2 separate regions of the Homo sapiens genome follow, and region 2 is linked to region 1. Evidence: fine-mapped expression QTL. Tissue or cell type: whole blood. Region 1 holds a variant in brackets; the other region holds the start of a gene. All regions are shown on one strand. Distances are between the middles of the regions.

Region 1 (5,159 bases):
GAGCAGGGAGACCCTCTGTCCCTGAGGCCCTGGTCCCTGCACTTCTGCCTGCAACCCTGTATCCTATCAGGCACCTTTCCCAGCACTGGGATGCATATATTCTCTCTTTGGCTCAAACTGTCCCATGACACCTCCTTCTCCTGGAACCATGTTCTTCCATCACAGATCATATCAAGACCTTGATTAAACTTTTTTTTTTTTTTTGAGATGGACTTTTGCTCTGTCGCCAGGCTGGAGTGCAGTGGCGTAATCTCGGCTCACTGCAACCTCCGCCTCCCAGGTTCAAGTGATTCTCATGCCTCAGCCTCGCGAGTAGCTGGGATTACAGGCACCTGCCACAACGCCCAGCTAACTTTTTATATTTTAGTGGAGATGGGGTTTCACCATGTTGGCCAGGATGGTCTTGATCTCCTGACTCTGTGATCTGCCCGCCTCGGCCTCCCAAAGTGCTGGGATTACAGGCGTGAGTCACCACGCCCGGCCAATTTAACATTTTTCAACATGTGATGTTTTCACCTTCTCCCGCATGAATGTAAACACCTTGAGGTGAACTCCCTGTCTGAAGTTCTCACTGCAGCCTTCCTTGCACCCAGCACAGCATCTCAGGTACACTGGATGCTTGGCAGCCAAGCAAGGAAGGCCATCTGTGCCTCCACAGCTTTGAGACTAGATGGACTACATCTACCTTTGCATCTGGCCAGCATTCCTCCAAATGTAGGGTATACTAGGAAGGCTGGGCTGAACCACAGGCTCCATGGAGTCTCTTGAATTTATCTGGCTACCCTCCTGGAAGCCCAGTACTGGAAACAAAGCCCAGGAGGCCCACATGATGCTGCTCTGGGGAGCAGGCCCTTGGAAATGAAACCCCATGGGTGAGGAAGCCCTGATTGTCTGGATAGAAAGTTCCTGAGGTAGATTTGGGGTTGCTTTTTCTTCTAGAGACTTCTAGATACTCTAGATATTCTCTCCTTCCTGAGGCAGACTTGGGGCTGCTTTTTCTTCTAGAGACTTCTAGATACTCTAGATATAACTCTAGATACTTCTCTCCTTCCTGATGACTAAGGATGTTAGAGTAGCTAATGAGTGTGGGGCATGAGCCACGCACCTGGCACCTCACTAAGTACTTCACACACATCATCTGCTCAAATCCCCCACATGACTCCATGAGATGGGCATTATCATCGCCAGGACACAGCTGAGGAAACTGAGGCCAAGAAAGCTCCCAAGGTCACCAGGCTGGGAAGCAGCAGAACATCTCAGGCGTGTTTGCCTGTCCCCTGCCTTCCAGCATCTCTGCACCCTCCCCCACGCCCTGAAGGAAGTGGGGGTGGAGGAGAGAGCGCTGCAGGCAGCAGATGAGCTCTTGGAAAACTGGGAGGTTTCTCAAGATAGGAGCTGGGAGAGAAATGCCACAGTTAGGGCCCTCCTTGAAGCTACCCACAAGGGCTCCGGAGGGGTGAGAGTGCTCTCTTACTGGAGTAGTCAAAAGACAGTCTTGCAGCATGCCGCCCCCTCCCCTCCTCGATATTCTCACTGCCAAATGAAATCTGGCAGTTTCTGAAAATAGCTCAGCGCTGCAGCAGGCACTCTGCCCGCCCTTCAGCAGGCTGGCACACAGCTGGGGGTGGCCACTCTGGGCAGATGCTGGCACACACAGGACCGGGGGTAGGTGTCACACACACTGCACAGGGGCAGCACAGAGCTGGGGGCATGTGGCAGCTGCCATCCCTCAGCTCTTCTGACCTTTCTAGGCCTGGCGAGGACTCTGGCCTTGGAGTTAGCATGGCATGCTTATCAGGCCTGAGGCACCCCCTCCAGCTGGGGTGAAATCACTAGTGGGTCTGAGAAGCTGCCCTTGGGCCACCTTTGTCCACCCCTGTAGACAAAGAGTAAACCCAGGAGCCAAGAGAAAATGATGAAATGGTGTTTATTACTATCTGGATGTAAAACCCAGCAGTGTTGTCCTATCTGACATGGTCTAGGGTTTCCCAGCCAGTGAGAGAGGGGCCAGGAAGGAACTAGGCTGCGTGTCAGGCACTTGTCAGGCAGTATCAGGCACTCAGCACCCTAAGGCTACCATGGTGGGGTGGGGCTGGTAAGCTCTGATCAGCCAGGAAAGGCCCTCTCTGCCCTACTCAGGCCCAAGCCAGGACCAGACATTCTGAGCATGGCTCAGTCGCCTTCCCCAACCTCAGGTCTGACCCAGAGTAAAGAAAGAGACCTCAGGTTAATGGGAAGCCACTTAGCTCTGCTCCCAACCAGCCACTTTCACACAAGTATACCAAAAGATAGCCCCTGACTTCAACAGAGAGGGGCTTTCCTGCCTGAGATCTGGTGAGCAGATGGGTGCAGGGAAAGTATGCTGGCTTTTGTCACAGTGACATTTTCCAAAGTGGAAAAAAGTTAAAAATATCTCCCACCTTAAGTTCAGATGAAAAGTCACCCTTTGGGTCGGGAATAGTGAGGGGATGGCTAGGCCCAGGGACTCCCTCAGGGGAGAGCGCTGAGTGCCATCTGGGCTGGGGCTGCAGCAAGGCAGGGCTGGACTGCACAGGGAGGCAGGCAGACCGGATCCAGCAGCCTCAGGGCCCAAGGAGGAGTGAGAATGAGAGGGCCAGCCAGTGTGTGAGAAATCAGCCTCCCCAAGGCAGAGGTGAACCCTCAATCGCCCCTCCTCCCTTACTCGCTCACTCAGCATTCACAGGCAGCAACGTGGTCCCTGGTCACCATGGCAACCAATGGCCAATGCCTTTCTCAAGGCCAGGCCCATCTGCCCATCCCACAGGGAGATGTCTCTGTGGAAGATGGGAAGCCCAGCCACAACTCCCAGTGGCCTAGAAAGCTAAGGCCATGCACCAGGGCAGGACAGCACAGAGGCCTCACTCGGGCCAACCTAGCTAAAGGTGCTGCTATGGCAGCAGGCAGCTCCCAGCCCCTAGG[C/A]CCTGCCCATCTCTAGGGCTTGAGCCTGGGCCAGAGATCTGAAGGAGGTTTAGGGTCAGGGTCCTCCATCCTGAAGTTCCGAGTGACAAATTAAAACACAACAAAATAATCCTTTTGTTAAAAGAATGACCCTGGGCCCTCCTGGCCAGGGCCTGAGCACATTTCAGTCTGTTATGCAGGCTGAGAGGCCAGGCTCCTCCAAGGCCCCATGAGCTACTGGTTGTTGCAGCCCTGTGAGGCAGAGGAGCTGCCTGCCTGCTTTTTTCTCCTCTTGTTGAGGAGCCGGTTGTTAGAGGTCTTCAGGTCCTTGATCTTCACCTGGTCGTAGTCTACCCGCATAGTGGCCAAGGCACTGGTCATCTCCTCCTGGGGACAGACAGGATGGTGGGCACTAAGAGGTCAGGATGTACTGACCTTAGGAACCATCACCCCCCTGCCTGGGCAGCCCCTTAATGTCAGTGACAGCCTGTGCTGCCTCTGTGCCCACTGTGTGCCCAGCACTGGGCCAAGCCCTTTGCATCACATGATCCTCACTACCGTCCTCTGTGGTAGACACTGAGCTTATTCACTAAGGCACAAAAGGAGAGTTACTCCCTCGGACCACACCAAGGGTAAGTGGGATAGTGAACTAAACCAGTTCCACCACAGAACCACAAGACCTGCAGAGAATGCCATCTCGCTGGGCAACCAGCGCACTGGGGCCTGGAGATTGTGCCACTGGAGCTGCTACTCCATATGTTCAAACGTGGCCTCTGCTGGGTCTAAACCAGGCTGACCACCCTCCCAAATGTTGTTGGTTATAAGAGAGGTCATCATCCAAGCTTGGTACCAAAGCCCCGTTTCATTGAGGAAGTGAGCCAGGAGCACCACACTGAATGGCGTAGTGAGGCCCAATCCTTGGAGTGCCATGGTTGGACCACTGCGACAGTCACTGACACCCTGTGCTCCAGGTATAGAAAGGGGCCAAAGACCCCAGACCCTGGGTAGCCACCCCCCTGAAGTCCCTTTTGCCCAAATCCTGGCACCTGTATTGAGACTGAGGCAGAGCCCACCCACCTTGACTTCGTCCCAGTGGTCTTTGTCCTCCTGCAGCACTCGGGCCGTGTGGAGTGGGGTCTGTGGCACTACCATCGATTGCTGGAAGGAGCCCCACGCCCGTGGATTAGAAACTGGAGGCACCTGGGACAGCACTGGTTCCCCCTACTCCATCCTCTTCTCCCAGACTCAGATGGAAAAACCAAGGCTCAGGGTGGGGAAGGAGCCTCACTAGGGCAGTGACAAAGCCAGGTTGTAGGTGAGGCCCTAGTATCTACCTGTGTGCATGGGCCCATTCCAGCCCTGCACTGGGGCCTCAAAGCAGAGCCACCACCCTCCTGCCCGGCAGCCCCACTCCTGTTGGACACCCTGCCTGCCATGGGAGGAGGAGGGGCTCACGTTGATCCAGGGGTGGTTCATGAACTGAGTGATGGTCAGCCTCTCTGTGGGGTCTGTCTTCAACAGGAGGCGGATCAGCTGCTTGGCTAGGGGGGCCAGGGAAGAGAGGGGAGAGATGAGATTGCAGAGCCAGCCCCTCCACCCTTCCCCACAGACCACAAGCTCTGCTGGGGCAGGGGCTGCATGTGCTCCCAAATTCCCAACCCACAGAAAGAGTGAGCTAACAACTATTTCTTGTTTTGAAACACTAAGTGTTCAGGATAATTGGTTAAGCAGCAGTAGATAACTCATACAGGGCAGCCTTGTTTGTGGTCCTCAAAGGGGAAAATATGAATGAGGAATAGGAGTTAGAGGGAGTTTTGAGGAGGCAAGTTTTGAGCCTGTTTGGCAGATGTAGAAACTGAGGCTCAAGAAGGTTAGGGGACTTGCCTAGGGTCCCATAGCTGGAAAGAGGGGGAGCCAAGATTTGAACACAGGTCAGTTTGACACCAAAGTGATGTTTCCCAGAATGAAAGCCGCAGGGGCCAGGTGAGTCAGGCTGGGACAGAGAGGTTCACTCACCATCCTCAGAGACTTCTGACCACTCAGGATTGGGGAAGCCGTACTGGCCCAGGCGAATCCTCCTCTTCATCCCCGGGGAGATGGCCTGGCCCGTGTTGGAGTAGAAGGGTGGGAAGCCACAAAGGCTGGGGGAAGGGGTAAGTCATTTGGCATAGGGTGGGAGCAGTGCCAGGGTGGACCCATTTCCCCTCAAAAGCCCCTGACTGGGGAGACAGACAACCAGA
Region 2 (5,108 bases), 21 kb before region 1:
ACGTTTTCTGAGACCATAATGAAATAGGTTGGAAGAGAGAACTGAGATGTTTACCTCAGCAAGTCACAAATCGGCAAACTCAGAAACTCTAATTAATTAAATTTCTTTGTTATAGACATATTGGTTTTAATTAAAAATTCATTGCAATGTCTTATTGAGTAGCTATAAAAAAGATAAACATGATAGAGCAATTTAAAAAACAAAGTATGCAAACAGTTTCACTTATCATGTCACTGTTACTTTTGGGTTTAACTCATTACCTTAGATGATAAATTGCAACTCGATGAGCAAGGAAGGAATCAAGTTTTCTGCAGGAAATTCGTTAAGACTGGTGGCTGTTAAAAATAGCCGATACCCAAACAAATTTTATAAATAATTTACAAGAAATGCAGACAGCATCATCTTTTTCTCTTAGAGTTTAAGTTGATCAATAATTTTTTATCACAAGCAAACTCCATAATGGTAAATCCCCCATCACCTTTGGTGAATGATACTGGCCCTCTACAAAGCTCGATGAGATACACTTCATATCTTCTCTCCTTGTTTTCTGCTGCCTAGAGAATCACACAGCAGCATTTAAGGAGCCAGCCAGTCTGATGACTCAGCTCATAAAACAATGTGTGGCCACAAAGATGATGTTTATCCATGAGCATTCTGGAGGCTCTTGCTACTGAAGTCGGCAAGCAGTGGATAAGTGGCACACGATGCTCATTCTCAAGAGTTTCTGGCAGCGGTGCCAACACAGCACTCACTTCCCTCTCTCAGCAGTTGATTTCATCTGATGCTCTGTCCAAACAGAATGGTAGAAAAAAACATCAGAGAAATGCAGTGGGTATAGAGGCAAATCCAAACAAAGTGCAGGTGATAGTGGTGACATTCTGCCTTCTCTTGATCAGAAGGTGTCAGCAGCTGGAGCTTATCCCCATATGAACCCCAGGGTCAGGTAAATGGAAGACTTAAGAACACGTTACCCAACTTACCTCTGCCCTTCTGGGTTCCTCAAGGAGGGGGTCTGCTGTGGTTAGTAAAACGTCTGCGGAGCTAGTTTCCTTCATGGCAGAGAGATGCGCAAGCTAGTCTCACTTCACCAGCACCTCTTATTTACCCCAAAGCAACACCTTTTAGGAAGCCTCCTTTCAGGAGGCAGCTTTGGAATAAGGGGCTAATTCAAAGTAAGTTAACACAAAGGCTGTACACAGTGGCTCACACTTGTAATCCCAGCACTTTGGGAGGCTGAGGCAGGCAGATGACTTGGGGCCAGAAGTTCAAGACCAGCCTGGCCAACATGGTGAAACCCCGTCTCTACTAAAAATACAAAAATTAGCCAGTCATGGTGGTATGCGCCTGGAGTCCCAGCTACTTAGGAGGCTGAGACAGGAGAATCACTTGAACCCAGGAAGCAGAGATTGCAGCGAACCAAGATTGCTCCACTGCACTCCAGCCTGGTGACAAAGTGAGAATGTGTCTGAAAAAAAAAAAAAGATAAAGTTAACACAGAGATGGCTGACACAATTAGAGCACTTTCAGGTGAAGAGACCTAAAGTGTCTAAGAAGATATTAGTATTTTGCTTTAAGTTTTGTTGCATCTGAATATATTTTCAGTAGGGAGGGGATAGGGAAGAGTGTGACAGGAAGACAGATTAAGCAGTACAATATTTCATTATTTTCCCTAAAATGACAAACTTTAACCATCTGTTCCTATTTTATCAACCCATTCAAAATGTTATTAAAATGTGGATTTCTTTCAGTTAGCCAAGGTCTTCAAATGAGAAATGGCCAAAGCTCTCCTGATTTTAATTCGTGGAGACTGATGTGGCACTTCTGGATGGGCTCTAATGAATAAGCCCCACCATGAGAAGCACCCCCAGATGTTTCCAGATGTGTCAGAGAATTCCCAGCACTTGCTTGCTGCCCACTTGACTGTGAGCTACCTGGAGACAGCACCATGCTATATTCTTTTTTATTTTTAGTGCCTAGCATGCAGCATCTGACACATAGTAGGTGCTCAGTAAATATTGTTTTAATTAATACATTAGTAAATGAGTGCTTTTAATGTTTTCCAGAAATTTATATTTTTGTTCCAATAGGGTTTTTGTTTGCATGTTTATTTTCTGTCCAGGAAAAAGGGCGGAGATAGAATCAAAAACAAGATACCCCCTGGAAGGAAGGGCAAATAGATAGAAACTTGGCATTACCTAGATCTCTTTTCCCTTGGGGGGAAATAATTATGTCCTTAAATTTCTGCACTAAGTCACCAAGGAGGGCTTGAAATTAAAAACCTTGGAGAGTAATTAGCAACAAAACGTTCTGATGTCAAAAAGCACATTTTATAGGACCACATTTGTAATATTAATTGGGCCTCTGCATAGCCAAATGGTGAAATTATTGCTACAATACAAACAGGCCCAAAAGAGAAAAACAGCCCAAAATAGCACAGATATTCCAAATCAGGACAGAGGTAATTTCTCTATACATAAAAAACCACCAATTGAATGCCTTCACCAACTCACTTGAGTTAAATGAGTTAAAAAACAAAAGCCTGTTGAGTAGTGTAGCACCACCTACCCCATCTCTGAAATGCTATGGGACTGGGGCTAGGAAAAGAACCGAGACTTTATCCCCACCAGCTTTTCATACTTTTTATCTTGAAGTGTAAAAAGTTTGAATCATTTATTTACCAAAAATTTATTGAGCACCTATTATGGGCCAGGTCCAGAGCAAAAAAAAAAAAAAAAAAAAAAAACAGCGAGCCACTGCACCCAGCCTCTCTTCATGGAGTTTAGCATCTAGTTGGGAGAAGAGACACTGAACCAATAATCACACAAGCAAATATCTAATGAGAGACACAAGGACAGGTGCAGTGGCTCACGCCTGTAAATCCCAGCACTTTGGGAGGCTGAGGCGGGCAGATCATTTGAGGCCAAGAGGTCGAGACCAGCCTGGCCAACATGGCGAAACCCTGTCTCTACTAAAAATACAAAAATTAGCCAGGTGTGGTGGTGGGTGCCTGTAGTCCCAGCTACTCGGTAGACTGAAGCAGTAGAATCACTTGAACCCGGGAGACAGAGGCAGAGGTTGCAGTGAGCAAAGACTGCACCACCACTGCACTCCAGCGTGAGTGACAGAGCAAAACACCATCAAAAAAAAAAAAAAAAAAAAAAAAAAACGAAGAGAGATACAAGTACTAGGAAAGAAGAGAAAGAGAAAGGGTACATGTACAGAGGGAGCCTCAGCCAGGGATTCTGACCTAGTTTGCAAATAGGGAAGACTTCCTGGAGGAAATGATATTTAAACTGGAGGCTGACAATACATACAAATTAGCCAAGTAAAGAAGAGAAAAGTGTTCTAGACAGAGCAAGCAGCATTTGGGAAAGGTGAATCTGGTGAAGAAGGAGCTTAACGTATCCAAGGAATGGAAAGGCCAGTGTGACCAGGACATGATGTGTGAGCGAGCAAGTGGGGAGTGGGGAGAAATGTGCGGACTAGAGTGGAAGATAGGGGCAGCCGCTGGGGCCTTGCCACGTCCCATGACATTAGGGAACCAGCCATTGACAGACCTTGGGTCAGAAGCAGAGATAAGAGACATGAATAAGAACATGATCTCCCCTCAAGGAGATCCTGGGCTTGTTGAGGGAACAGCCTAGGAAAAGGCCTATCCTCTTGAGTCCTGGGCTCAGAGGCACCACTGCACATTCCCCAATTCTCTGAGCACCAACAAAGTCTGTGCAGAAGCATCTAGGACCACTGCTCACACAGGACCACTCCAGGCTTCTTTCTCCTCCTTGAGCCAATCTTTCCTTTGTTCTCAAGATGGCACATCTGTGCCAGGCTCCAGCGCTCATCTCCCGGGTTTGGAGGGGAAGCACAGCTTACCTCCCTACACAGCCCACTCTCCAGGTTCTGTGACCCACTGCTTTAGCTGTGGTCTCAACACCTTGCTTGTCCCTCACACCCCTGCCCATGCTAAGGGTCCAGGGAAAGAATGTTGCCAGGGGCACCAACAAGCAATTGGCCCTGAATCTGATCAAGGATTACTGCTAATCTCTTCCTTGAGGAACATTTAATACAGGATGCCAAAAAAGAGAAATCTTTAGAGAATTCTCTCACAAGATCACACCTTAGGACTTGTACTCGGAACATGCAGGGCCCTGACCCAGGGAGCAGCAGGAATAGTACTCACTCTGTCACCACTGAAGAAGAGCAACTCTAAGAAATGGGGACTATTCTGTTCTCCAATTAGCATTGAGGGTGATGGATCAGAATTTATAATATGCAGTTATGAGTTATGGAACAATCAGAGAAGTGATCCTGATTCAGAAACCTGCCATTCCAGGAGCCATGGCAATTTTTCATGAGAACTCATCATGGGGTGGCCCCTGCCAAAACCTCACTTGCACCCAGCCTGTCCCAGCCCCAGTCTGTCACTCCAGCCCACTGACAGCCTCAGGCTTTTTCAAGTTTCAGGTGACCTAGCAACAGGGAATAGAACTTGAGAGCTCTGGAGTCAGAGCTGGGTTCACATCCAGCTCCAGATAGATACTTCCTAGCTGGGTGACCCCAGGCAAGTAGCTTAATCCCTCTGAACCGAGTTTCTTCCTGTCAGGTGGGAATCAGAATGGCTTCTACATCAGGGATGCTTCTGAGGATAATGCCTGCAAAGTTCTCAACACAGAGCCCGGCACAAGGTAAATGCTCACTAAACTTTGGAACCTTGCTCCCCTCCTACCAGCTCAAATTGCTTCCCAGAAATGCTGGGTCTCCTTGCATTTGTGGAATCTGCTTCTCCTCCAAGCTAGCCTGCGAGAGCTGGTTTGGTCACCCCTGCGCAGCTGGGCTGGCCTCCTGCGTCTGCCTCTTACCAGCCAGCACTTAACTCAGCATGAGCCTCTTCTCTCTATTTAACACCAAAAGAAATTGATTTCCCTAAGCTATTTCCATGATGCAGCACCCCTGAGAACTACATATTGCATCAGTTCTCCTCCATGACCATCAAACCCCCTGCTCACAGCCACTCTCCCTAGAGCCACAGGGTCCTCAGCTGCCAAGGCATAGATCTGTTTCATTTTGCACTTGCTTAAAGGTCAAACATGAATTTCTCCCCATTATTG

Evidence for each region. PIP is the estimated chance that this variant, and not a neighbour inherited with it, causes the effect.
Region 2: LINC02019 starts here. The variant in region 1 is fine-mapped to the expression of LINC02019 in whole blood (TOPMed, PIP 0.98).

What each region holds. Positions count from the first base shown.
Region 1 is chr3:50,646,041-50,651,199 of GRCh38, reverse strand. It overlaps MAPKAPK3 (MAPK activated protein kinase 3), which reads right to left. Exons shown (of 11, transcript NM_001243925.2): 8 at 4,936-5,060; 9 at 4,375-4,460; 10 at 3,997-4,077; 11 at 1,909-3,306. The coding sequence ends at 3,154. Among named protein-coding and RNA genes, the nearest start is that of LINC02019, 21 kb to the left of the region's middle. RefSeq lists enhancers at 1-122, 1,578-2,131, 3,623-4,122. The variant C/A (reference allele first, on the strand shown) is at 2,941.
Region 2 is chr3:50,667,049-50,672,156 of GRCh38, reverse strand. It overlaps LINC02019 (long intergenic non-protein coding RNA 2019), which reads right to left and starts at 2,718. Exons shown (of 2, transcript NR_183733.1): 1 at 981-2,718; 2 at 106-786.